Homo sapiens: one gene and its partners. The protein of the gene in region 4 interacts with the protein of the main gene of each other region in a biochemical or structural test. Each region holds a gene or a part of one and is shown on either strand. Other genes may lie near its edges.

What was found.
Region 1: the proteins of USP4 (region 4) and PRPF3 form a complex in vitro, tested with the Homo sapiens proteins (one study listed by BioGRID).
Region 2: of the proteins of USP4 (region 4) and MAP3K7, one has a biochemical effect on the other in vitro, tested with the Homo sapiens proteins (2 studies listed by BioGRID).
Region 3: of the proteins of USP4 (region 4) and PDK1, one has a biochemical effect on the other in vitro, tested with the Homo sapiens proteins (one study listed by BioGRID).

What each region holds. Positions count from the first base shown.
Region 1 is NC_000001.11:150,338,506-150,345,533, reverse strand, and holds part of PRPF3 (U4/U6 small nuclear ribonucleoprotein Prp3), read right to left. Parts: intron 5,137-7,028; coding exon 5,057-5,136; intron 3,505-5,056; coding exon of another isoform or gene 3,491-3,504; exon of another isoform or gene 3,382-3,490; intron 2,226-3,381; coding exon 2,082-2,225; intron 1,373-2,081; coding exon 1,273-1,372; intron 1,159-1,272; exon of another isoform or gene 1,101-1,158; coding exon 987-1,100; intron 1-986. UniProt on the Homo sapiens protein: Plays a role in pre-mRNA splicing as component of the U4/U6-U5 tri-snRNP complex that is involved in spliceosome assembly, and as component of the precatalytic spliceosome (spliceosome B complex).
Region 2 is NC_000006.12:90,577,045-90,584,072, forward strand, and holds part of MAP3K7 (mitogen-activated protein kinase kinase kinase 7), read right to left. Parts: intron 1-7,028. UniProt on the Homo sapiens protein: Serine/threonine kinase which acts as an essential component of the MAP kinase signal transduction pathway. Plays an important role in the cascades of cellular responses evoked by changes in the environment.
Region 3 is NC_000002.12:172,594,086-172,601,113, reverse strand, and holds part of PDK1 ([Pyruvate dehydrogenase (acetyl-transferring)] kinase isozyme 1, mitochondrial isoform 2 precursor), read right to left. Parts: intron 5,286-7,028; coding exon 5,145-5,285; 3' UTR 1-5,144. UniProt on the Homo sapiens protein: Kinase that plays a key role in regulation of glucose and fatty acid metabolism and homeostasis via phosphorylation of the pyruvate dehydrogenase subunits PDHA1 and PDHA2.
Region 4 is NC_000003.12:49,330,026-49,337,053, reverse strand, and holds part of USP4 (ubiquitin carboxyl-terminal hydrolase 4), read left to right. Parts: intron 1-1,457; coding exon 1,458-1,585; intron 1,586-7,028.

The DNA of each region.
Region 1 (7,028 bases), on a different chromosome or scaffold from region 4:
ACTAAAAATACAAAAATTAGCCGGGCGTGGGGGTGCGTGCCTGTAATCCTAGCTACTCAGGAGGCTGAGGCAGGAGAATTGCTTGAACTTGGGAGGCAGAGGTTGCAGTGCGCTGAGATCGCGCCATTGCACTCCTGCCTGGGCAACAAGACTGAAACTCCGTCTCAAAATAAATAAATAAATAAATAAAATATATATATAGGATCACTATATAGGCATGAAAATTTTCTAGGAGGATATGTGAAAAACTGTTAATAGCAATTACCTAAAGAGAGTGGTTCTAAGGGATCAGAGAATAGAAAGGAGACATTTTGAGTAAGTATTCTTCTGTGTTGTCAGACAATTTTTTAAATCTTAATAAGCATTCACTATTTTTGTGATAATGTACCACTTTTATAATAAAGAACTAGTTAATAGAAATAAGCACATTTTAAAAATAGAAGATACACATGTACTCAACATAAAAGAATAAAAACATTAAATCAACACAAAGGTAGAAAAATATTTACAACATATAAAATGCATTTTGGAGTGAGGATGAAACACAGCAATACATCAGGGTAAGGATATGACTACGGAGGAAAGAAAATTTGTAATGCTTCCATGGATGTTGGAAGCAAACTCAGACCATTTAAAAAAAAAAAGATGAAAAAAAAAAGAAATAGGATGATATTTTATAGTTCTCAAAGGACATACAATCTTTAGTTCACATCTTGGCCTGAACAAGTATATTGACTTGTTCAGAACTAATATTCTGGTAAAAAAAAAAAGAAGACTTGAGAGGGAAGAACTGGGTAACCATAAACATAAGTCATTAACTCTCGCTATTTTACAAGATTTACTAGCTCTTGATCCACACTAGGGTCATTAAAAGAGAGTAGGAACTGGTGTTAGGTATGCTTTTAGGCCACAATGATTCTGCCTCAAGCACTTGGAAAATGTTTTAGTAATTCTAAGGGGAAGTTTGGCCCAGTATGGACACCTACCTATATACAGATATGTGTACCCCCTGTGAAATGTCTTCTTTAAGCTTTTTAATTTTCTTGACCTTTCTCTGTTCTGCTGTGAGTTTTCGGGCAGCGTTGGCCTCTTCATGCGCTCTGTCGTGACAGGAAGGACATCCACAAGTGAGAAAGGCATTGAAGATCAGAGGCAGGGCTGAGGGAAAGAGAGAGCAACGGAGAACTCTCCCCTCCCTCCAAATATGGACCCCCCAGAAGAGTTTGGGAAAGGTACTTGCCCGAGGTTTCCACCCAATCCCATGGCACTTACTTCTGTCTTTTTGCCATCTGAGCTCTGACGTGGGCTTCTACCTTCGTGGGGTCTTGAACAGCTTCTGTTCCTAATACTCGCATCAAATTAGAAATTCTCACTGCAGTGAAGAGAGGACAACAATCAGTCTTTGAAGTCACTTCTCCAGCTGGAGTAACTTGTTATTTCTTCCATACCAATTCATATTATTTACCTATTTCAAATCTCTGCTCTAAACTCACTTCCTCCAATAACTCCTATCTTGAAAATCCCATCCAATCACTTCAGCATTTGCAGAAGTTCACACAATTAAGTTGAAGATTGGTATGCATTTACATTATCTGAAAATTTATGAAGGACGTGGAACTTAATTCCTTTCATATTTTTCACACTGATCACAGCATCTAGTGAAAGAGCTTATAAATAATAGTGCTCAGTCAAAATACTGCTGAACGAGAATGTAACTACAGGGTCAAGTTTTTTATCCTGTACTTTCATTGTAAAAATTAAAACATTAAGAATTATGTACATAAAAAGTCTACGCAAATACTGCAACTACTATCTCCATGAATTTCAAGACCTGTATTCTTCCAGGAAAACCAGAGTGTTGTATGATCAGTATGCTTAAAAATAAGCCATAAATGGCCTCTATAATGAATGTGTTGACCTATCTTAATATGAAAAGATGGTAGAAAACTTGGAGAAAAAGGACCCCAAGAATAATTCTTAGAAACAGAAATCACTCAAACACAGAGATGTTAAAGTTCCTCCAGGATTAAAGACATAAACTTGCCACTCTTTTTAACAGAAGAGGCCACTGAGAAATGCACCTTTGGGTTCTGGAGGAGGCATCAGGCCCAGCCTGACTTTTTCTTGTAGTTCCTTCTGTGCTTCCCTCCTTGTTTGTCTCCGAAGTTTTTTCTGTTCCTTCTTGGTAAGATATACTCCCAGAGTAACTGGTGTGTCATTGTCAACTGTCAGGCAGAGATATTAGTATACCAAAGCAGTAAGAATACATATATATATATATATATTTTTTTTTTTTCTCTCTCTCACTCTGTCACCCAGGTTGGAGTGCAATGGCACGATCTCAGCTCACTGTAGCCTCTGCCTCCTGGGTTCAAGTAATTCTCCTGCCTCAGCCTCCCGAGTAGCTAGGATTACAGGCACACGCCACCATGCCTGGCTAATGTTTGTATTTTTAGTAGAGATGGGGTTTCACCATGTTGGCCAGGCATGAGCCACCAGGCCCGGACAGCAATAAAAATATTAAAGAAACCTAGGTAAATATCAATATCATTAAAAGAAACTTTAGGCTGGACACAGTGGCTTATGCCTGTAATTCTAGCACTTTGATAGGCCAAGGTGGGAGGATGGCGTGAGCCCAAGAGTTCGAGACCAGCCTGGACAACCAAGTGAGACCCAACTCTATTATAAACATTTTATGTAAAAAATATATTGAGGCCAGGTGCGGTGGATCACACCTGTAATCCCAGCACTTTGGGAGGCACGGGTGGGCAGATCACGAGGTCAAGAGATCGAGACCAGCCTGGCCAACATGGTGAAACCCTGACTCCACTAAAAATACAAAAATTAGCTGGGCGTGGTGGCACGCACCTGTAGTCCCAGCTACTCGGGAGGCTGAGGCAGGAGAATCACTTGAATCCGGGAGGTGGAGGTTGCAGTGAGCCGAGATTGTGCCACTTGCCACTGCACTCTAGCCTGGCAACACAGCGAGACTCCATTTCAAAAAACATGTGTGTGTGTGTGTGTGTGTATAAACTTTAAATAGAAAATGAAGAAAACTCGTTAATAAGGGATCAGTAAGATTAAAATCAGTTCAGGCCTGGTGCCCGGCAATATGGCTATGTTTTTAAAAAACATTCTTATCTTTCCTTTTGTTGAGACGGAGTCTCGCTCTGCTGCCCAGGCTGGAGTGCAGTGGCGCAATCTCAGCTCACTGCAAGCTCTGCCTCCTGGGTTCACACCATTCTCCTGCCTCAGCCTCCTGAGTAGCTGGGACTACAGGCACCCGCCACCACGTCTGGCTAATTTTTGTATTTTTAGTAGAGACGGGGTTTCACCTTGTTAGCCAGGATGGTGTTGATTTCTTGACCTCGTGATCTGCCCGCCTCGGCCTCCCAAAGTGCTGGGATTACAGGCATGAGCCACCTCGCCTGGCCTCTTATCTTTCTTAAGTAGTGTTCTTAGTTGTTTTCCTTTAAGCTGTTAAACCCCCTCATTCAATGATACCTGGCAAATGTAGAAAACAAAATTAGGGCCAGGTGCGGTGGCTCACGCCGGTAAACCCAGCACTTTGGGAAGCCTAGGTGGGCAGATCACTTGAGGTCAGGAGTTCAAGACAAGCATGACCAACATGGCAAAACCCTGTCTCTACTAAAAGTTCAAAAACTAGCCAGGTGTGGTGGCAGGCACCTATAATCCAAGCTACTCCGGAGGCTAAGGCCGGAGAATAGCTTCAACCCAGGGGGGTGAAAGTTGCAGTGAACGGAGATAGTGCCATTGCACTCCAGCCTGGGTGACAAAAGCGAAACTCCAACTCAAAAAAAAAAAAAAGGCCGGGCGCGGTGGCTCACACCTATAATCCCAGCACTTTGGGAGGCCAAGGCTGGCAGATCACCTGAGGTCAGGAGTTCAAGACCAGCCTGACCAAACATGGTGAAACCCTGTCTCTACTAAAAATACAAAATTAGCTGGGCGTGGTGGCACATGCCTGTAATCCCAGCTACTCAGGAGGCTGAGGCAGGAGAATTGCTTGAACCCAGGAGGCAGAGGTTGTGGTGAGCTGAGATCATGCCGTTGCACTGCAGCCTGGACCACAAGAGCGAAACTCCTCCTCAAAAAAAAAAAAAAAAAAAAAATAGAAGCAACTTTGTTTCCCAGTTTCAACTTTGGGAAACTAACAAAAAGCCCTTTGGAATTAGCATCCCTCACAGTGGGTAGTGGAGCATATCGCATCTAATAACACACCAACCCAAGAGTTTGGCTCTTGCATTTGCATTTAGCTGTGGATGCCACAACAACATGTGGTTCTATAAAAGGAGCAAGCTGAGGGCTCTTTCCTAGGAACAACCAGGGAACTGTAAATGTAAAGCTTCATGAAATTTTGGGTTTTTTTCTTTCTTTCTTTCTTCTTTTTTTTTTTTTTTTTTTTTTGAGACAAGGTCTGGCAGTATCATCCAGGCTGGAGTGCAGCAGCACCATCTCAGCTCACTGCAACTTCCACCTCCCAGGCTCAAGCCATCCTCCACACCTCAGCCTCCCAAGAGGCTGGGACTACAGATGCACACCACCATGCCCGGCTGATTTTTTATTTTTTGTAGAGATGGGGTTTTGCCATGTTGCCTAGATCTCGAACTCCTGAGCTCAAGCAATCTGCCCACCTCAGCCTCCCAAAGTGCAGTGATTACAGGCATAAGCCACCATACCCAGCCAAATTTTTTTTCCTTGAGATGGGTCTCACTGTGTTGCCCAGACTGGTCTTGAATTCTTGGCCTCAAGCAATCCTCCTGCCTTGGCCTCCGAAAGTGTTTGGATTAGAGGCATGAGCCACCATGCTTGGCTGTCTCATGAAATTCTAAGCACAGGAATATGCACTTAAAATGTATGTTCACTGGTCAAACAACAAACTATTGTCAGGAAAAAAACTGAATTAAAAAAAAGAATTACACATGGGTAGTGGCTATTGTATTGAACAGCATAGATACAGAACATGTTCCTCACTGTATAAATTTCCAATGGGTAATGCTGCTCTAGAGACTTGATTCAGGAATCTATACATTACCTGGAGGATTGAGCTGGGCTGGATGTTCAACAAGATTTGTGATTCCAAAATAATCTTCTCTCTTGGGATTTTCCTCTGTACTAAAATTGTAGGAAGAAAAGAAAACACGATATGCGGGTAGAGATGATTCTAAGAGAGGAGTCTCAGAAATACAATGAAAAAACCCACTCTCTATAATGGGTTCTTGTGCTTGATATACCTAAAATAGCATTTAGGTACCTAAAATATATAGTTAAATTACACATAATTTTCATGATGAGAAAACTGAGTCCCTCTATGGTTGAACACACTCTCCACAGCAATCATTCTCAACCTTTTTTCTACCATGCCACAGCTGACAGACGCTATGTTCTCTCATTAGTGACAATAAGTCCCTGGAACAGTGGCTGACAAAGAAGGGGCAACGAAAGGCTAAGACAAAATCTACTAAAGCCATGTATCAGAATGATGGAGCAGGGCCAGGTGATGTGGCTTATGCCTATAATCCCAGCACTTTGGGAGATGAAGGCAGGTGGATCACCTGAGGTCAGGAGTTTGAGACCAGTTTGGCCAAATAGTGAAACTCTTGTCTACTAAAAATATAAAAACTGGCCAGGTGTGGTGGTATTTGCCTGTAGTCCCGGATACTTATGAGGCTGAGCTAGAAGAACTGCTTCAACCCAGGAGACAGAGGTTGCAGCGAGCCGAGATTGTGCAACAGAGTGAGACTCTGTCTTAAAAAAAAAAAAAAAAAAAAAAAACGCCAGGCGTGGTGGCTCATGCCTGTAATCCCAGCCCTTTGGGAGGCTGAGGCGGGTGGATCACCTGAGGTCGGGAATTTGGGACCAGCCTGACCAACATGGAGAAACCTCGTCTCTACTAAAAACACCAAAAATTAGCCAGGCGTGGTGGTGCATGCCTATAATCTCAGCTACTTGGGAGGCTGAGGCAGGAGAATCACTTGAACCCAGGAGGCGGAGGCTGTGGTGAACCAAGATTGCTCCACTGCACTCCAGCCTGGGCAACAAGAGCGAAACTCCGTCTCAGGAAAAAAAAAAAAAAAATGGATGGAGCAGATATATTTAAAGCTCTTCAAATGTGTCTTATATCCTTTTTTTTTTTGAGACAGAGTTTCACCCTGTTGTCCAGGATAGAGTGCAGTGGTCATGATCATAGCTGACTGCAGCACAGACCCTCCTGGGCTCAAGTGATTCTCTCACATCAGCCTCCTGGGTAGCCAGGACTACAGGCACAAGCCACCATGCCCAGCTACTTTTTTTTTTTTTTTAATCTTTGTAGAAACGAGGTCTCACCATATTGCCCAAGCTGGTCTTTAACTCCTGGGCTCAAGCAATCCTTCAGCCCTCAGCCTCCCAAAGTGCTGGAATAACAGGTGTCAGCCACCGAGCCCAGCCTTATATGCTATATTTACTATTATCTCACCTACCAACTAATAATCCTTGCTCTATCACAATGAGATCTTTAGGAAATGTAAACACCTATAATACGTAGCAAAAGAATGTAATTAAGGAAAATAATGCTAAAAACAGGCAACAATGTGTAACAGAGCAAAAAGAATTCTAGACTTTGCTTTTGTAGATTGTGTCCCTGGTTATCCTACATTAACCCCAAAAGCTAAAAACAGCCTATATATATGATACATCACTTACAAATGCAGGAGCTTGGCCAGGTGCAGTGGCTCACGCCTGTAATCCCAGCACTTTGGGAGGCTAAGGTGGGCGGATCACCTGAGGTCAGGAGTTCGAGACCAGCCTGGCCAACATGGCAAAACCCTGTCTCTATCAAAAATACAAAAAGCAGATGGGCATGGTGGCACACACCTGTAGTCCCAGCTACTTGAGGGGCTGAGATTCAAGGAGAATTCAAGGAGAATCTCTTGAACCCGGGAGGTGGAGGTTGCAGTGAGCTGAGATCGTGCCACTGCACTCCAGCCTGGGTGACAGAGCGAGACTCCCTCTCAAAAAAAAAAAAA
Region 2 (7,028 bases), on a different chromosome or scaffold from region 4:
TAGGATATGTAAATAGAGACCCATTAGGAAGCCATTACAGCAGTCCAAACAAGCAACAATAGCTACGAGGGCAAGGTCAATGGTAGTGCAGAAACTGGGCAGATCTGGGAAATGTTTTAGAAGTAGAGTCAATAGGGTTTGCTGATGCTCTGCATCCAGGCAGGACAGGTGTAGAGGAAAAGAGCTGAATCAAGGAAAACACCTAGACTGGACAACAGTTTACTGAGGGATAAGAATGATGCAGATTTTTTTTTAATAACTCAGAGTTTGGTTTTAGTCATATGAAGTTTAAGATGCCTACTGGATATCCAAGAGGAGATATCAAGTAAGAAGGTAGAAACGTGAGTGAGAGGATCTATGGAGAAGTCAGACAAAGAGATACAAACTTGGGAGTCATTAGCATGTAGTCAGTTTTTCTAGTCAATCAGTTGGAAGAGGTAACCAAAAATAATATGGAGATAGTGGAGTAGAGGAACTGAGCTTTGAAGCAGTTCAACATTTAGATCACAAGAGAGGAGAAGGAATGGGCAAGGAACAGGAAGGAACAGTCAATATGGTAGCAGGCAAACTAGGAGAGAGTCAGAGAAGCCAAAAGAAAAAGACGTTCCAGAAGGAAAGCAGATATAAGGACAGTGAAAGCATATGCCAGTGGCTCTAAAAGTGTGGTCTCCGGTTCAGCAGTATCAACATCACCTGGATATTTATTAGAAATATAAATTCTCAGGGTGCAACCCAGAATTATAGAGTCTGACGGTAAGGCCAAGCAATCCATGTTTTACCAAGCCCTCCAGGTAGTTTCAATGTTTGAAAATCACTGCATTCAAGGCTAATCCATTAACAACAGATAATAAGGCAAGATATTTCAGTGGAAGCCATCACACAGACCAGAGAGCTCTCCCTTGCTGTTTATATTATTTGTGGAAGCTTTCCACAGCACCCATATGTCATCTTGGGCAGGAGAAAGGGAAAAGGAAAATCCTTATGGGGGAAGACTGAATTTTGAAATAACCGAATTAATCTTGAAATTTCTGAGTACAAAGATACATAAAAGAGGTAAGTATTACATGGAAATTATCCTTGTTGTGGCAAGATTAAATGCTTTTCTCTACTGAGTTGAAAAGAGGAATGACTCATAATTAAACAGTAGTTTATAGAAAAATAGTTACATTTCTTAACTTTTAAAAACAAGTAAGAAATACCGGCAGGAGGACAGGAGTTTGTTTTGTTTTGTTTTGTTTGTTTTTTTGAGACAGGGTCTCACTCTGTTGCCCATGCTGGAGTGCAGTGGCGCGATCTCAGCTCACTGCAGCCTCTGCCTCTCTGGCTGAAGTGATTCTCCTGCCTCAGCCACCCCAAAGTAGCTGGGATTACAGGCTTGTGCCACCACACCCAGCTAATTTTTGTATTTTTAGTAGAGTCGGGGTTTTGCCATCTTGTCCAGGCTGGTCTTGAACTCCTGAGCTCAGGCGATCTGCCTGGGTTGGCCTTCCAAAGTGCTGGGATTACAGGCGTGAACCACTGCACCTGGCCAGAGACAGGAGTTTTGTGCTTTAAACAAAAAAGAGTATAAGCATATATCCATAAGAGTAGAAGATAGAATAATCAGATGATATATACAATGGATAAAGTTGTTTCCTGGTATATTTTGCTCTCCTTCCCCCCATTCTGATATTAGCTCTCTAAGGGAGAAGTCTGAATGGGAATTAGAGGTGGCAGAAGGTGCTACGTAGCATAAAAAAAGCTTCCCAGGGCATTCCAATATACTTCTCATTCCTTTCTTCAAGAAATAACATTTTAAAGAAATGCAATTTTATTATCTGTATAACGATAATGCAACCTTATATTTAACAATATATTACAACTTGTAAAGCTCTTTCTTACAAATATGATGGAGTTTGAGTGTCACCATAAACCCATGAATATATAGGATTTTTTATTCCTACCTTAGAGAGAAGAAAACCAAGGCTCCAAGAACTGAAGTTACCTATTCAAGGATCATGTAATTAGTAAATCAGAGTCAGCTTTCAGGTATGTTTCATGGTGCCAACAAAACAGAGGCCTGCCAGGATTTGGTCCAGTGCCTGGTACAGAGAAAAATGCTACTCAAAGGCAGCAAGTATGATAACTAACAACAATTAACTTTTCAAAAGATTATATTCGAATCAGATTTTAGCTGTTTAGAAGGGGGTTTTAAAAAGCCCTAATCTCCTTTAAGAAAAGAGTGAAGTTGGGTTAATAGAAGGCTTGTGTATAAAGGGCTTATGGCAGTCTCCAAAGATGGCTGTCAACAATCCCTTCTCTGCCTGTCTCTGCTTAAGAGTTCTATTTTAGCCTCCTTCACTGATTCTTCCTTCCTCTGTCCAAACCTTAGATGTTGCTACTTTCCAGGGTTCTGTCCTTGGCCCTTTTGTTTCTGAATCTGTTCTCTAATCTCATGGATTCATACTCTCAAATCTCTCCCATCCAGGTTTTTTGCCCAAGCTCAAGATATATTTAAAACTGCCTTTGAGACTAAGGGGTCCTACAGGCTTATTAAGTTCAATATGTCAAATACTGACTCCATTATCAGTCCCTCACTTGTGTATATTGTAGTTTACTTGACCTTAGTTAAGTAGATTTACAGATATTATCTCATTTTAATTAAGTCAATTCTCACATTTTAGAAAGGTTTTATTTAGAAAGTACTTATTGCAACTTGAGCCATGATCAAATGATAGTATGAAACCTTTCATCTCCCATTGTTTAAAAATACCGACTTCATACATACACACTGAAAACTGAGTATACAAAATAGAAAGTGTTTTGTTTTACCAGTGGGAGACAGACAAACAAAAAATTGTGGACACCACCGCTCCAACAGGAAACGCTGGTTAAGAAAGTTCATTACTGTCTGCACTCCACCTCTCAGGCTATGTAAAACAGCACTCCACTGACTGGGGAAAATCTTACATGTGTATAGATTTTTAAAAAATATATCACATATTTCTAAGAAAATGTTTCAAATGCAAATATCTTGGTAACAAATTTCCTTATTGTATTAATCAAGAACATAAAATCGTGGAGAAGATCAGATGTAGAATAATAGTATGTCTGGACTGCAAAGGCCAAGCCTAAAAACACATAAGGAGATTATGTACATTATTAGATAAGGAATGAGCCAATGTTACAAACTACAGAAAGCAAATTTGATATTTTTCTTGACATATGGTAGATCAACAGAAAAAAAGTGGCATAGATGGCCACTCTTGAGACATACTGGCAACTGAGGTAAACAATGAAAAAACTTAATATTCAAGTTGTAAACCACTGAAAGAAGGCCACTTTTTATTTACTACCAAATTTCTAGTCCAAGTTCACAAATCAAACGTGCTTTCTGAACCGTATTCTTTTCTGAATAATACAGTTTATTTGACACACTGTAATTAACAATTAGGTTTTTTGTTTTTTAAAATTTTTTATAGAGACAGGGTCTCACTATGTTGCCCAGACTCGTCTCAAACTCCTGGCCTCATACAATCTCCCACCTTGGCCTCCCAAAGTGTTGGGATTACAGGTGTGAGCCACCGTACCTAGCCCAACATTATTTTAAATGACTGTTTTTTCCCCAAAGATGAATTTTCATCAAGAGTAAAAAAGAGAACATATCAAGTTACAAGTATTTCCCCATCACACACATCCAACTAAAATGGTGACATACAAATAAATATTTCAGATATTCTTCATAATCCTTCATTTGTAAAAAACAGAGGAATGCAAAAAGGACTTTGGTTTTAAAAGGGAGGTCAATTTGGAAATATTTCCTTCTAAATTTATGAATGTTTTCTAAATCAAAATGTTTTTGATTAATTACTTTATGATAAGCATTTCTCCCCCTATGGTTGAAACCTCTTTGTTTTGGGTCTACAACTTTAGTCTCATACAATTAAGTAGATTTAAATTTAATTTCTTAATAAAAAATACAGAAGAATATGAGATGGTATATAGAACATTTCCATGCAACTACTATTGAAAGGCACAAAAACAAAAATCAGGTTTTGTGTGTTTGTGTGTTATTTTTAAAGAAATTCCTTTAAAAATTAATTTCTTTATGATGTAAGATGACTCCATTCCTTCAGACAAGTCATGTTAAAGAAAACAACCAAACACACACCTAACCTAAATGGAAAAGGATGTATGCCTTTGTGCTCTTAATTTATTATTAAATAATTCTTTTAATTGTTCTGAATTCATGTTATTTTTAGTTCAGTGACTACAGCTGTCAGTTTCATTTGGCCCTGTTCTATGAACTATCTGAATGGACCCCTGGTGATGCTGGCATTGTTCTGGCTGGAAATGCGGAACAAGACAGAACAAGCATAGATCATACATTTATTAGTTAGGACTTGGAGCCTCCAACTATGTTAGAACTTCAATATCTATTAATAAACTGTGGCAGAGTGGAACTGCCATCTGCTGACAAGATGGATTTGATAACATAAAAGTAAAGCTTTGATTATTCAAACTTTCTTCTGAATGTTTCATGCAGTCTTTTAATACCTGCCACAGTACATCTCACCCATTTTCTAGGCTTTTATTTCAAATAATATGCTCATGCTATCTTTTAAGCTACACGTGTACAATGCAAAAATTATCTCTGTAGCTACCTCTTAACTATAGTAATTCCAGATTTCTACTGAAATCAGTGGTCACTTTCACATGAAAGAATGTATTGATTATTTTAGGTATCCATAATTAAATAGTGACTAACAAATCTATGTACTCAGTTTGTTTAGACCACTATAAATTAGGTTTTTCTCTAATACCAATTCCCCATATATTTATAACTTAAACCTACAAAGTACATATAACTGTTTAAGTTCTATCTATATCTCCTCTTTGTAGCATATTTTAGCTTTTAAAACAAAACTTTTGTGTGTCTCCTTAACAAAGCTGAAGAATATATACAAATGCTGCAGTAATTTTATGTGTCCAATACTATAGCTTTGTTCCTACACTATAGTTGAGGTCAGCATTATGGGTCTCCCTTTTCAAAAGCAACCATTGTAAATAGTGTCTTTTTAGCACTCTGTAGTAAAGACCTACCATACGTGGCTTACTCATAGCATCTGGCCCTTTACAGCATTTTTTATCCCTGCTAAACAAAAGTATCTGCTAACTATAATAGAGTCGACATTAAAACAAGACTCGGATCTCATTTCTAACGTGTTGCCTTAGCCAAATCGCATAACTCAGCTCCTATTTTATCACATGTAATATAAGAGAACAAGATGGGCATTTAATTCTTATGATTATGCTGTGATACTTTCATGTACTCATTGAACAAATATGTATAGAGAACCTTCTAGGTTCTAGGCATTGGGGTTACAAAAGTGAATAAAGCGCCTTACATTTTGCTGAAGGAGAGACACAATTTCAGTTACTGGTAAGTACCATGAAAGATAATAGAAATGACAAAAGATCTAGGTTGTTCAGGGAATGCTTCTCTAAGGAAGTGTTAATAACATTTGAGGTGGGACTTGACTGGTGAGGAGTCAGTCATCTTAAGTTATGGGGGAACAGCGCTTTAGGCAGAGGAACAACTACAAAGAAAATTCATCTTAGTGACTTTCCCAACCCACGATGGTCACTTTATTCAAAACCTAGTTTTAAACTTGTCCCTACTCAATGGAACCTTCTGTGATTAACTCTATTTTCAAATTATGGCTTAAGTGTTTAATTTACACTATATTCAGTTTTAAATTTGTGGTCTATAGTTAACTGTTCTGTGTTTACTCCAGTCTGATATCATACTAAGTCAGACATTTTAAGGAGGTAATCCTAGGATTCTTCTATCATCTTTTTTTTTTTTTTTTTTTTGAGACAGAGTCTCCCTCTGTTGTCCAGGCTAGGGTGCGGTGGCATGATCTCAGCTCACTGCAACCTCTGCCTCCTGGGTTCAAACGATTCTCATGCCTCAGCCACTCAAGTAGCTGGGATTACAGGCCTGTGCCACCACACCCAGCTAATTTTTGTACTTTCAGTAGTGACGGGGTTTCTCCGTGTTGGCCAGGGTGGTCTTGAACTCCTGGCTTCAAGTGATCTGCCCGCACTGGCCCTCCAAAGTGCTCGGATTACAGGTGTGAGCCACCGCACCAAGCCCTATTTATCTTTTATAGTACCTCAGAGTATTACGCACAGATGAGAATGTTCATTAAATGCTCAGGACCAACTACACTAAAAAGGAAATCAGTATTTTGTTTCCCCTTTCCCATATTAGGTTTGGTTATAGAGTACTTCAGAAAGTACTGAGTGACACTGTAAATCCAGTGGAAAGGGCAACTGACTCACAAGTGAGAAGTCTCATATTCAATTCCCAGCTTTACCATTTACTTAGGCATGCGGCTTCTGGCAAGTCAAACTCTATGACTGCTTGTCAATATCTGTACAATGGGATATCATTTGCCCTGTCAACCCAGGATTAGTTGGTCACCAACTGAATTCTATAGGAGACCATGATCAGTCTTTAAAGAACTGCTAAGCTTACTATAGAAAACAGTTAAATACTGGAAAACATGAATGTGTTTTCATTTTAGAACTGGAAAAGACCTTAAATGATCTTGTTCAGTCAGTTTACATGAGTAACCACAGGCCCAGAAAAATGTGGTGACTTCCTCAAAGTTACAAAAATATATTATGGCAGAATCAGTACAGCATCTAAATTTTCTTTTTCAGTCCAGAACACTTTCCACTATACTACCCTGTGTAACACTTCTTGCAACCCATCCCCTCTTTTATTCCAACATTCTCTACAGCCAGTTCTAGATGGTAAACACTAAATGATGTTTAAAAAGTACCTAGGCAGATTTCTGAGGCTGAGACCTTACCTAATTTGACTGAATTGAATTGAATCTAAGATGTGCCAAACTAATACTACTGAGTTACAATATTAGAAATGCAAGATCAGCTAATGTCTTAGAAATATGTATCTACTAAATGGCTGCATATTTGGCCTGTAGTTGAATTATTATTTTTTTTACAGTTTCTAATTA
Region 3 (7,028 bases), on a different chromosome or scaffold from region 4:
TGTTATAGAAGGCAGAAAGAATTTAGGTAGACAGGGTAAAGCGAGTCCCCGGCAGAAAACTTTTCTTTTAACAAACAGCAGCTCAAATATAGCTCTTTTTGACCTCATGCAGTTAACCCCAGTAAAACAGTGGCCCTTAATAAGCACATTCCTTTCCCTTTAGGGGCACTAAGATAAGGAAGCTAAAAGCAGACCGGGGGGATGCCTGCAGCTGCAAGATGTATGGGAACAGACAGAGAAACTCTCCCTTCCAGATAAGCTGGACGAAGACAACATAGAATAAGAGTCTAAGAGCCTATGTGGTCAAGGAATGGGATAAGAGCTGATAAAAAGCTATGCTCTGTACAGATAGCACACCTGGTCCCAACTAAAGCGTCCTCGGACCCTAGGAGGATAAGATATCCCCTCCTCATGAGCCCCCTCCTCACTAGCCCATTTATAAAAACCCTGACATTTTTACTACAACTTGGCAACCTGCTCGGAACCCCTCTCTGTAACAGAGCTGTTTCCTTTTGCCTATTAAACTCCTGCTCCAAACTGTGTGTGTCTGCGACCTCGATCTCCTTGGCCATGAGACCAAGAACCTTGGTATTTACCCCAGACAATGAGGCTGCTTCACAATTACAGGTGCCTACTACATACTGGCCATTATGGAGATACTGAGAGTAAAGAGATGAAAAGAAATAGTTCATATTAAACCAGATATGTTTATGCTGTAATACAGACATATTTTTCTCTGTCCCATCCTATTTTATAGTTATATAATCATATGGGCTCCATTTCTGGAGTACAGTTTTGGACAAATAATTTCATACCATACTGTATTTTCATGCAATACTGTAACTGTAGAACTCTATATTAAGTATTTTCATGTAGTACTATAACTGTCACATTCTGAATTCCATAATGAGAGACATCTAAGTACAAAACCATGGCAAGAATACTGTGGCTTTTTATATTTGAGTCAAACTTAAAAATGTCCTGGCCTCATAAACTGTTTCCAAAAAAAACCTTCTCAGCATTTTTAACTTATAAGTAGATGGCAACATTTTAATCAAAACAACAAAATTTCTGATATTATCTGTGACAAATGCAGGAAATGTACTTCCACTCTCAAAAAATAACCCTTGAATGAACACAACTCTCACGTGGAAGTTTATTTTACTGGGGTGAAACTCTGTATTTTTGCTAAATAATTGCTAATTTAACAAAGTAAAAGACAGCTGTCACAATTCCCAATATAAACAACAGCTTTTCCAAGTCAACCAAAAAGAGTAGAGTTTTGCACCAAAAACTGACAATCTTGTCTTTTGCTATTAAAAACCTATGGTTAGCAATTGCTAAAGAACTGTGGAGACTCTAGAAAGAGGGGGGTGGTACATATGTTCAATTCTTTTTTCCAAACATGTCAATAGAACAGAAGGTACAGTAGTTTATGAATGCCAGAACTAAGCAAACTAGTGGTTTGCTTTTTTTAACATGCAAAAAATTCTTCACACAGTATTAATTATATTATTTTTCAAGTGCATTGGGTTTGACTGTAAGAAAATTAATTATTGGGACCAGAAATTAATAAGACATGATTAAAAGTTCCTCCAGCAAAAGTCATGTTTGCAAACTACCTAACTCAACCCTGATTACCCATATGTAGAAACTTCACACTTACATCACAATTAAAGACATAAACTGAAATTAGTTGGCTGATTTTTGGCTTCCTCTGATTAGTCATTCACAGAGCAACAGTGGGACCTTAAAACTAACAGTTTTCCCAGCTATTTACCTCTGGAGTTCTGTTACGGAACTTGTTGGCTTCAACAATGAAGGGAAATTGTGCTGCCTATATCCCATCAATTAAAAATAGGATAGGAATTTATTTTTGACTATAGTAGTTCTGCCATTCAATTGGTACAAGCAGAGGGTAATGCTGGTTAAATTAAGACTTTTTTTTTTTTTTTTTACAGTTATACTGTGGAAAGTTATTCAAATTTCAAATTTATTTACAGTGTTTGAAAAGCACACAACAGAAGATCTTCATTTATGCAACAAGTCAATCATTTGCAGTATGTATGGAAAATAAAAATCTAAGGTAAGTCAAACATACAAACTCTACCTCTTGCTTTCTCCATTAGAATATACACATTGGAAATCTAAGTTCCAAACAGTTCCTCTCTACTGAAGATAGTGAAATTTAGTGCAAGCCCCCTAATTACCAATTTTTTGGATGCTTACAAAATGTTGAGCCTTGATGGTGGAAGAGGATTCTATTTAAAAGAGATGACTATATTTTTAAAAGGCTAAATTGACTCAGTTTATTTTCAAAAGAAGGGTTGATCCATGTTTTCAGTTTATTGCCATACAGAAAACATTTTATAAAATAATATGGTAGACTTCTACTTCAACATATTCACGTAAAAACATCACAGTGCAAGAAAGTGATCACAATTAAGCATGAAGACATCAAAAGCCAGCCAGTATTTTAACTACAGAGCAGAATATTCTTGCTGTCCCTTCCTAGAAAATGTTGGCACATTCATTAACTGCTCAGGTTACAAAAATCACTTCGTGTCCACTTCCTGTCCTTCAATATATTTTCATAACTACACTGTGTTACATTAATGCTGGTGGACAAATTAGCTCCTATAAAATCTAAAAACCTTTCAGGTGGCACAATGATTTAAAACCAACTAGGAAAAAGCTCTCCCAGAATATTTTTGTATGTAATATTCTGTCCATTACCACAATAACAGAGTAAAAAGCTGTTTTACCTTAAAAATAAGCTAAAGGAAGATAATTTCATTTTTCCTTTAAAACATTTCTTAGCTTTTAAATAGAGAGAAAAAGTTTAAATTTTCTTGGGGGAGGAGAATATTTCATAAGTAAAAACATCAAATGTTGTACAAATGTTTCATTTAGGAAACAAATACTTAGATTCAAAGGATTCTAAAACATTTCAACATTATAAGAAAACTGTAATTTAAAGCTAAAAAATTGTAATACATCGAACTAATATAAATTACTCATTAACATGTTCTATTGTTTTTCACAAAATCCATAATTAAGGAATAGTGGGTTAGGTGAGACATTTTTCCCAACATTTGGTCAGATTAGCTAAGCAGCTCTGGGCAAAGGATGCCTCCTCTGAATCAGGATCTTGGCCTCTTAAATGAGGGCACTGGACTAACTGCCCATTCACATCCCTCTAATCTACACATTTATCACAACTGTTCATCTTATATAATCCTTCCAAGGATGAAGTGTTTCAACTCAGTGTATTTTCCAGACAAAGCTCCCCTGTTTAAGTGGCAAAACTCTTCTTTAAACTTTAAAATTTTTACTTTAAAATGTTATTTCCAATATTATTTCCTGCCACCTTAGAAGATGTTGAGGGATAACTAACAACACAGTCTCTAAATGACACAGTCTCCTGGACTTGCCAGCTGATGACAGGATCTGCAGATACGTCTCAGGCTCTGCTCCAATTCTGAGCAACTCTGGGCCACACTGAGTGAGAAAGAGAATGATACCACCTACACTGTATCGCTTTGTTTCAAAGACCAATAGAGTTATAATATATCAAAGTATTTGTAAAGTACAAATTACCATACAAATGCCAAGGACTGCTGTAATAAACCTAAGCAAACTTTTCCCTGATAATGAAATCTGGATAGTTTTAGAAAATATATGTTGTTTGTCAAGACTTGTGCAATAGGCCATGTGTGGTGGCTCACGCCTGTAATCCCAGCACTTTCAGAGACTCAGGCAGGAGGATTTCTTGAGCTCAGGAGTTCAACACTAGCCTGGGAACATACTGAGACCTCATCTCCACAAGAAATCAAAAAATTAGCTGGGTGTGGTAGTGCACAACTGTAGTTCCAGCTATATGGGAGGCTGAGGTGGAAGGATTACTTGAGCCCAGAAGATTGAAGCTGCAGTGAGCCTTGACCATGCCACTGTACTCCATCCTGGGCAAAAGAGCGAGACCCTGTCTTGAAAAAAAAAAAAGAAAAAAGAAAAAAAGACACGTGCAATGATGGCTCTGATGCTTTGGTTACGTGGCATTTTGTTCTTCTGCTTCTAATTATGCTTCTAATTGCACCAGGTGTGGGATTCAGTTTCTGTCTCCTCGAGTCTATAAATCTGACTTTAAATAGGTGGAAACCAAAACCTACAGATGTTACTTTAGCAAATGCTGTGTCATCACTGTTTACTTTGAAAGAGTGGTTCCCAACCTAGGGTAGGCATCAGACTTACCTTGGAAGCATTTTAAAAAGTGAGATTTCTAGGCTCTAGCCCTAGGGATTCCGATTCAGTGTATCTGGAGTAGGATGCAGAAAAGCTCTATTTTTTTCCAAAAGCTTTCTAGGTAATCTCAACAAGCAATCAGTTCAGTTTTGGAGACATATTACTTTGCCCTCAATTTCTTCTCTATTTTAGTAGCTGCTAGTTTGTTTGTTTGTTTTCAGTATAAAAATTTCCCCTTGCATTAATCAGAAGTACACTTAGAAAAGATGGCCCATGATTTTGGCATAGATCCACAGAGAGCTAGTCATTACACTTCTTTACAATAAAATTTAAAAATGGTAAATTAACCTCAGAGCTAAGACAATGCATGTAGACGCCGAAGGGTGGCTGGTTCTGTGATTACAGGCCAACTGTTTTCTGCTTTACTTGTAGTCAAGTCACTGATAAACATGAAGACCATATTACAGCTGTCACTACCGAATAAAAGATGGCAGAACTCCTCCAAATAACAGGAAGATGGCTAACCAGCTAATCACTATCATTTAGAAAATGTTTCTAGCAAACATAAATGAAAGTATTTCTTAAAAAAAAAAAACTAGTTTCCTATAGAAACCCGAAGATTTCCACACTTCTGAAGTCTACCACAAAGTGAAAAGTTGCCCAAAACTACAGTTGTTTAAAAATATGTTCAATTAACTGTGAAAATATAAGTGTAAAATAGGTGCAATTTCATCCTTTAGGAGGTTTAACGGGCACAAATGGAATTCAGTTTCCATTTATTCTACTCAAATAGTTTTGTGAAAACGATAAATAAAGTACTTGGTATAATATAGTTCTGAACACCATACCTTCCAAATTTAATACAAAAGCCACATTTGGATTTTCCGATGTCCCAAGTGTGTCTAGGCACTGCGGAACGTCGTCATGTCTTTGGGTTCTCTGCTGGGGACGCACCAGTCATCAGCCTCGTGGTTGGTGTTGTAATGCTTCCAGGCAGCTTTGTTATACACTGGGAGTCTTTCTATTGAGTCTGTTGACAGAGCCTGAAAAAGAAAAACCTAAGACCTATTAAGTCTGGCATTTTTTAGAATTCATTATTTGAGAAAATAGACAATGGCAAAAAGGTTACGACAAATTAAATAATATTCTATTAGTATCTTATTAATCCTTATACCACCTAAATATACTTTTAAATGGTATGTATATTTGAAACGTGTTATTTATGAAATCTATGGCACTGACTGATGTGCAGGTTGACTGAGTTTGTTGCTTACAGTAATTCCCCAGCCATCCTGGAAGCTGCTGGACTGAAATTTTACACAAAACATGACCCAGATCAGAGTTGGCTAACTGAAGAAGTTGGTTAAATGTAAAAGCATACAAATCGATATATGTATCTTAATAGATGCACATAAATTTAATGAACTCTATTTTAATTATTTACTAGAAGAAATAGTGTTTTTTTCAGCATAGTCACTGTGCTTTAAAAAAAACTCATCACAAGCCAGGCACGGTGGCTTATGCCTATAATCCCAGTGCTTTGGGAGGCTTACACAGGAAGATTGCTTGAGCTCAGGAGTTGGAGACCAGCCTGGGCAACATAGCAAGATCCTGTCTCTACAAAAAATAAAAATATCAGCTGGACATGGTGGCACATGGGTGTAGTCCTAACTACTTGGGAGACTGAGAGAGGAGGATCACTTGAAGCCCAGGGGTTCAAGGCTGTAGTGAATTATGATTGTACCACTGCACTCCGGCCTGGCAACAAAGCAAGATATTGACTCTATAAATACATAAAAATTTAAAAACTCATTATAACATTATTAATAAATAGAAATCTATGTCTAAGGCATCTTAGCTTTTTCGTGAACATTTATTGGCCCTGGGTTTGAATCTGTGTCTTCTCCGGCCTCCAATTTCAGTCACTGTGCACAAGATTTCTGCATCATGCATGATTTCAGTTTTCCATATATTATTACCAGTAATTCTCCATTGTATTTCAGCTTCCTATAAGTCACTGGAACCTGAGATAAACTACATTTCTAGTTATCTTCTTCAAGTTAGGATTTTTCAGTAGTATTTCCATCCCAGGCCAAAGGCATTTCCTAAGATGCAGAACACCCTGAACAAGAAAATCTCATTCTGATAATGCTAAAGTCTTTGATGTTGACAATTTTAATGATTCTCTAAGACTTCTTATCTTCTATTTTCCCTAAGGTAGAACAAAAAACCTTTCACCTCCATATTTCTCTAAATATTCCAGAATTTCTTGATCTACAGGCTAGATCAAGCTTGTCCAATCCACAGCCCACAGGCTGCATGCGGCCCAGGATGGCTTTGAATGAAGCTCAACACATTTGTAAACTTTCTTAAAACATTATGAGATTTTTTTTTGTGCAATCTTTTTTAAGCTCATCAGCTATCATTAGTGTATTTTATGTGTGGCACAAGACAGCTGTTCTTCCACTGTGGCCCAGGGAAGCCATAAGATTGGACACTCCTGGGCTAGATCAAAATGTTACATTTTGTCATAAAAACATTGCACTAGGCCAGGTGTGGTGGCTCATGCCTGTAATCCCAGCACTTTGGGAGGCCAAGGCAAGCGGATCACCTGAGGTCAGGAGTTCGAGATCAGCCTAGCCAGCGTGGTCAAACCCCATCTCTACTAAAAATACAAAATTAGTCAGGCGCCTGTAATCCCAGCTATTCGGAAGGCTGAGGCAGGAGAACAGCTTGAACCCGGGAGGCGGAGGTTGCAGTGAGCCGAGATCATGCCATTGCACTCC
Region 4 (7,028 bases):
CTCGGCCTCTCAAAGTGCTGGGATTACAGGTGTGAGCCACTGCGCCTGGCCTTGTGTGTACATTTTTGGAACTCCTTTGGTCCTTAAAGGAAAACTGAAGTGGGTGGTGTTTCTAACCCATTTTCAGAAAGAGCATTAGTTTAGTGCTGTTCATGTCAAGCAAAACAGTGTAACCAAACTGTCTGCCTGGAGTGGGACTTCTGTAAAGATCATTATGAAATTAATGACTTGTGGCCGGGTGCGGTGGCTCACGCCTGTAATCACAGCACTTTGGGAGGCCGAGGTGGGCAGATTACCTGAGGTAGGGAGTTTGAGACTGTCCTGACCAACATGGAGAAACCCTGTCTCTACTAAAAATACAAAATTAGCCAGGTGTGGTGGCACACACCTGTAATCCCAGCTACGGGAGACTGAGGCAGGAGAATCACTTGAACCCGGGAGGCGGAGGTTGCGGAGAGCCGAGATCACACCATTGCACTCCAGCCTGGGTAACAAGAGCGAAACTCTGTCTCAAAAAAAAAAGAAGTTAATGACTTGTTTATTAGCAAACATGATTTTACCCATGAAAAGACTCCATTTAGACTGAGTGTGGTAGCTCATGCATGTAATCACAGCACTTTGGGAGGCCAAGGCAGGAGGATCACCTGAGATCAGGAGTTCGAGACCAGCCTGGCCAACATGGTGAAACTCCATCTCTACTAAAAATACAAAAAAATTAGCTGGGCCTGGTGATGCATGCCTGTAATCCCAGCTACTTGGGAGGCTGAGGCAGGAGAATTGCTTGAACCCAGGAGGTGGAGGTTGTAGTGAGCCAAGATCATACCACTGCACTCCAGCTTGGGCAACAAGAGCGAAAACTCCGTCTCAAAAAAAAAAAAAAAAAAAAAAGAGGCCAGGTGCAGTGGCTCATGCCTGTAATCCCAGCACTTTGGGAGGCCGAAGTAGGCGGATCACCTGAGGTCAGGAGTTTGAGACCAGCCTGCCCAACATGGTGAAACCCCGTCTCTACTAAAAATACAAAAATTAGCTGGGAGTGGTGACAGGTGCCTGTAATCCCAGTTAGTCAGGAGGCTGAGGCAGGAGAATCGCTTGAACCTGGGAGGCAGAGGTTGCAGTGAGCCAAGATTGTGTCACTATACTCCAGCCTGGGCGACAGAACAAGACTCCGTCTAAAAGAAAAAAAAAGAAAGACTGCATTTAAATAAGCATTTTGAAACCACTTGTTTTCTTTCTTTTATTCACTCTTTGAACAATCATTTCACTTAATGGATGCATACCCTGGGCCAGACTCTCTGTGCCATGTGGGGCCTGGGCCCTGCTCTTGCTCTTGTGACAGTGTTTTTTAGTGGGTATTGCATATGCCCCAAGTGGAAGGACCATAAAAAAGATTAAGGAAGCAGCTGCAGAAATTTATAATCTCAGCTTTTCTGCTACAGTAAATTTCTGTCTCTCTCTAGGTATCTTATTGACAGCCGGTGGTTCAAGCAGTGGAAGAAGTATGTGGGCTTTGACAGCTGGGACATGTACAATGTGGGTGAACATAACCTATTTCCTGGCCCAATAGACAACTCTGGGCTATTTTCAGGTATAGTAAATGTTGCTTTTCTAGCTAAACATTCACCTGGGCAGTGGCCTGATGTTATGTGCATCTGTAACATGGACGTTGTGAACTTTCCTAGTGTGAGGAGATAGAAACAAGTATCCTCATTTTGCATCTATAGCAGAAGTCTTTGCAAACCCTTAATGAGAAGTTAAGCTACTTTTTTCCCTTAAATTAACTGCATCTGATAAGAGTATGCTTCTAACATTTTAACTTTCTCTCTTTGCAAATTAGTTCTGCTAGCTATTTCACATTTTAAGTTAGTATATGGAATGGAAAGAAATAGGATGTCATTTTGAAATTGTATCTAAAATTTAAGAACCAGAATTTTTTGTTACCTTTGCAGTGGAACAAATTGTAAACCTGTGAACTTTCATCAAGAATTCCTGTGATGGCTGTTTTTATCATATAACTAGTGTGAGGAGAGGTTGAAGGTCAGTAGACAGAGTTATGACTGTAGTCAGCTCCCAATGGGAACTGTGGGAAAAGCGACATGTAACACACTAGAGCTTGCTTGCACTTGTACATGCACTGAGATGACAGAGTCAGCTTTTCCCAGGCTTTCTTTTGCCTGACTTCAGACCTCTTTAAAGTCATGATAGAGGTGATCTGTCATGGGTGTCAAAAATCAGGGCAGTGCCAGGAGTGGTGTCTCACGCCTGTAATCTCAGCACTTTGGGAGGCCAAGGCAGGTGGATCACCTGAGGTCAGGAGTTCGAGACCAGCCTGGCCAACATGGTGAAACCCCGTCTCTACCATGTTGGCTAGGCTGGCCTTGAGCTCCTGGGCTCAAGCTATCTTCCTGCCTCAGCCTCCTTAGTCACTGAGACTACAGTGTTCTACCACTCTCAGCTGTTTTTTAAGTTTTTTGGTAGAGACGGGGTCTTGCTATGTTGCCCAGGCTGGTTGAACTCCTGGCCTCAAGCCATCCTCCCACCTTGGCTTCCCAGAGTGTTGGTGTGAGCCACTGTGCCTGGCCTAACTTGGATATTTTTAAAACTGAGCAATGCTTCAGCTCAGACCTTGTTTTAGGAGAGGTCTACATGGTATAAACAATATCATTTACTTTGTTTCCTGAAATAGGTCAAATGGTGGCACTATGCCACGAAGTTGCCCTAAGGAATCATTTCATTATGTTCACATTTTGTTCTTTTTCTCATTTTTATGAAATGGAGAATTCTTAAGGTTTTAAATTCAGGCATACTTTGGCTTATTGTGCTTTGCTTTATTATATGTTGCAGATACTGCATTTTTAGCAAATTTTGTAGGTATTTGGCAACGCTGCCTTGACAATCTGTCAGTTCCATTTTTACAACAGCATGTGCTCACTTCATGTCTCTGTTACCACATTTTGGTAATTCTCAAAATACTTCAAAGTTTTTCATTATTATTTGTTATGGTGATCAGTGATCAGGGAGCTTTCTTTTTTTTTTTGAGACGGAGTTTTGCTCTTGTTGCCCAGGCAGGAGTGCAGTGGCATGATCGTGGCTCATGGCAACCTCCACCTCTTGGGTTCAAGTGATTCTCCTGCCTCAGCCTCCCGAGTAGCTAGGATTACAGGCATGTGCCACCACGCCCGGCTAATTTTGTATTTTTAGTAGAGATGGGGTTTCTCCATGTTGGTCAGGCTGGTCTTGAACTCCCGACCTCAGCCTCCCAAAGTGCTGGGATTACAGGCATGAGCCACCATGCCCAGCCAACAGGGATCTTTCATGTTGCTATTGTAATTGTTTTGGGGCATCATGAAGGGAGCCCATGTAAGACAGTGAACTTAATTGGTAATTATTGTGTGTATTCTCGCTGCTTCACCAACCAGCCATTCCATCTCTCTCTCTCTCCTCAGGCTTTGCTATTGCCTGAGACACAATGACACTGAAATTCGGCCACTTAGTAACCCTAACAACGTCTTCTAAATGTTCAAGTGAAAAGGAGAATTGCATGTCTCTCACTTCAAATCAAAGCTAGAAATGATTTGAGTTTGGTTAAGGAAGCCGAAATAGGTTGTAAGCTAGGCCTCTTGTGCCATATAGCTAGCCAAGTTGTGAATGTAAATGTAAACCTCCTGGACTTAAGTGATCCTTCCACCTCAGCCTCCTGAGTAGCTAGGACTACAGGTGCTTGCCAGCATTCCTGGCTCATTTTTGTATGTGTTTATTTTTTCTTTTTGTAGAGATGGAGTTTTGTCATGTTGCCTGGGAGATGGAGGAACCCAGGAAATGGTGGTTTCAGTGAGCTGAGATTGCGCCACTGCACTCCACTCCAGCTTGGGCGACAGAAGTGAGACTCCATCTCAAAAAAAAAAAAAAAAAGTGCTACTCTAGTGAACACATGAATTATAAGAGGCTGAAACAGCCTTATTATTGCTGATATGGAGAAAGTTTATTCATTTATTTTTTTTTTTGAGACAAGGTGCCATCTTGTCTCAAAAAAAAAAAAGGTAGCTACTGCTACCTCGTGCAGTAGCACAATCACACCTCACTACAACCTTGACCTTCCCAGGCTCAGGTGATCCTCCCATCTCAGCCTCCTGAGTAACTGGAACTACAGGCCCCACCACACTCGACTAATTATTGTATTTTTTGCAGAGATTTTTTGTGGGTTTTGTCATGTTGTTCAGGTTGATCTTGAATTCCTGGGCTCAAGCAATCCTCCCGCCTTGACGTCCCAGAGTGCTGGGATTACAGGTGTGAGTCACTGTGCCCAGGCTAAACAACAGGTTTTATTTTATTTTATTTTTATTTATTATTATTATTTTTTTGAGACAGAGTCTCACCATGGGGTTTCACCATGTTGGCCAGGCTGGTCTCAAACTCCTGACCTTAAGTGATCCGCCTGCCTCGGCCTCTCAAAGTGCTGGGATTACAAGCATGAGCTACTGTGCCTGGCCTAAACAACAGATTTTAAATGTAGACAAAACACCCTTCTATTGGGAAGATGCCATCTACCTCTTTGCTGCTAGAGGGGAAAAGTCAGTGCCTGGGTTCAGAGCCTTTTTTTTTTTTGAGACAGGGTCTTGCCCTGTCACCCAGGCTGTAGTGTGTGATCACAGCTCACTGCAGCCTTAACCTCCTGGGCTCAAGTGATCCTCCCACCTCAGCCTCCTGAGTAGCTAGGACTACAGTTGCTTGCCACCATGCCTGGCTGATTTTTATATGTTTGTTTGTTTGTTTGTTTTGTAAGACAGAGTCTCGCTCTGTCGTCTAGGCTGAAGTGCAATGGCACAATCTTGGCTCACTGCAACCTCCACCTCCCAGTTTCAAGTGATTCTCCTGCCTCAGCCTCCCAAGTAGCTGGGATTACAGGTACCTGCCACCACACCCAGCTAATTTTTTTTTGTATTTTTAGTAAAGACGGGATTTCAGCACGTTGGCCAGCCTGGTCTCGAACTCCTGACCTCAGGTGGTCCACCCGCCTTGACCTCCCAAAGTGCTGGAATTACAGGTGTGAGCCACTGTGCCCAGCTTTGTATTTTTTTTTTTTTTTTGTAGAGATGGGATTTTGCCGTGTTGCCCGGGCTGGTCTCCAACTCCTGGGCTCAAGTGATCTGTCTGCCTTGACTTCTCAAAGTGCTGGGATTATAGGCATGAGCCACTCTGTCCGGCCAGATTCAGAGCCTTGAAGGACAGGCTGACTCTCTTCTTAAGGGATACTGCAGATGGTGACTTTAGTTTGAAGCTAGTGCTCATTTATCATTCCAAAAATCCCAAGGCCCTCAAGAATTATGCTAAATCTGCTCTGCCTGTGCCCTACACATGCAACAACAAAGCCTGCATGATAGCATATTTATTTACAGCATGGTATACCGAATATTTTTGTTTTTATTTTATTTTTCTGGGACAGAATCTCGCTGTGTCGCCCAGGCTGGAATGCAGTGGTGCAATCTCGGCTTACTGCAACCTCTGCTTCCCGGGTTCAAGTTATTCTCATGGCTCAGCCTCCCAAGTAGCTGAGATTACAGACATGCACCACCAGTTCTGGCTAATTTTTGTACTTTTAGTAGAGATGGGGTTTTGCTATTTTGGCCAGGCTGGTCTCAAACTCCTGGCCTCAAGTGATCCACCCGCCTTGACCTCCCTAAGTGCTGGGATTACAGGCATGAGCCACCACAACAAGTTTACCGATTTTTTTTTTTTTGAGTCGGAGTTTTGCTCTTTTGCCCAGGCTGGAGTGCAATGGTGCGATCTTGGCTCACCACAACCTCTGCCTCCCAGGTTCAAGCGATTCTCCTGCCTCAGCCTCCTGAGTAGCTGGGATTATAGGCGTGCGCCACCACGCCCAGCTAATTTTGTTTTTTTAGTAGAGACGGGGTTTCTCCTTGTTGGTCAGGCTGGTCTCGAACTCTCGACCTCAGGTAACTGCCCACCACGGCCTCCCCAAGTGCTGGGAGTACAGGTGTGAGCCACCACGCCCGGCCTCCCAATATTTTTTTTTTTTTTGAGACGGAGTCTTGCTCTGTCACCCAGACTGGAGTGCAGTGGCGCGATCTCGGCTCACTGCAAGCTCCGCCTCCCGGGTTCACACGATTCTCCTGCCTCAGCCTCCTGAGTAGCTGGGATCACAGGCGCCTGGTGCCTGCCACCACACCCGGCTACTTTTTTTGTATTTTTAGTAGAGACGGGGTTTCACCATGTTGGCCAGGATGGTCTCAATCTCCTGATCTCGTGATCCACCCATCTCGGCCTCTCAAAGTGCTGGGATTACAGGTGGGAGCCACCGCGCCCGGCCTCCGGCCTCCAGCCTCCAGCCTCCCAATATTTTTAGCTCAGGGTTGAGACCTACTGCTCAGAAAAAGCACTGAGCTAATCTTATCAAAATGTTACTGCTGCCAGGTGCAGTGGCTTACGCCTGTTATCCCAGCACTTTGGGAGGCCAAGGTGGGCGGATCACGAGGTCAGGAGATTGAGACCATCCTGGCTAACATGGTGAAACCCTGTCTCTATTAAAAATACAAAAACAAAATTAACCGGGTGTGGTGGCGGGTGCCTGTAGTCCCAGCTCCTCGGGAGGCTGAGGCGGGAGAATAGCATGAACCCGAGAGGTGGAGCTTGCAGTGAGCCGAGATGGCGCCACTGCACTCCAGCCTGGGGGACACAGCGAGACTGTCTCAAAAAAAAAAAAGTTACTGCTCCATTGCAATGTACCTAGTTACCCAAGAGCTCTGATGGAGATGCATGAGGAGATTAATGTTGTTTCATGCCTACTAAAAACATCCGTTCTGCAGCCTGTGAGTCAAGAAGTAATTTCAACTTTTTTTGTTTGTTTGTTTGTTTGTTTGTTTGTTTTGAGACAGAGTCTCACTCTGTTGCCCAGGCTGGAGTGCAGTGGCTCAGTCTTGGCTCCCTGCAACCTCTCCCTCCCAGGTTCAAGCAATTCTCCTGCCTCCTCCTACCAGGTTCAAGTAATTCTCCTGCCTCAGCCTCCTGAGTAG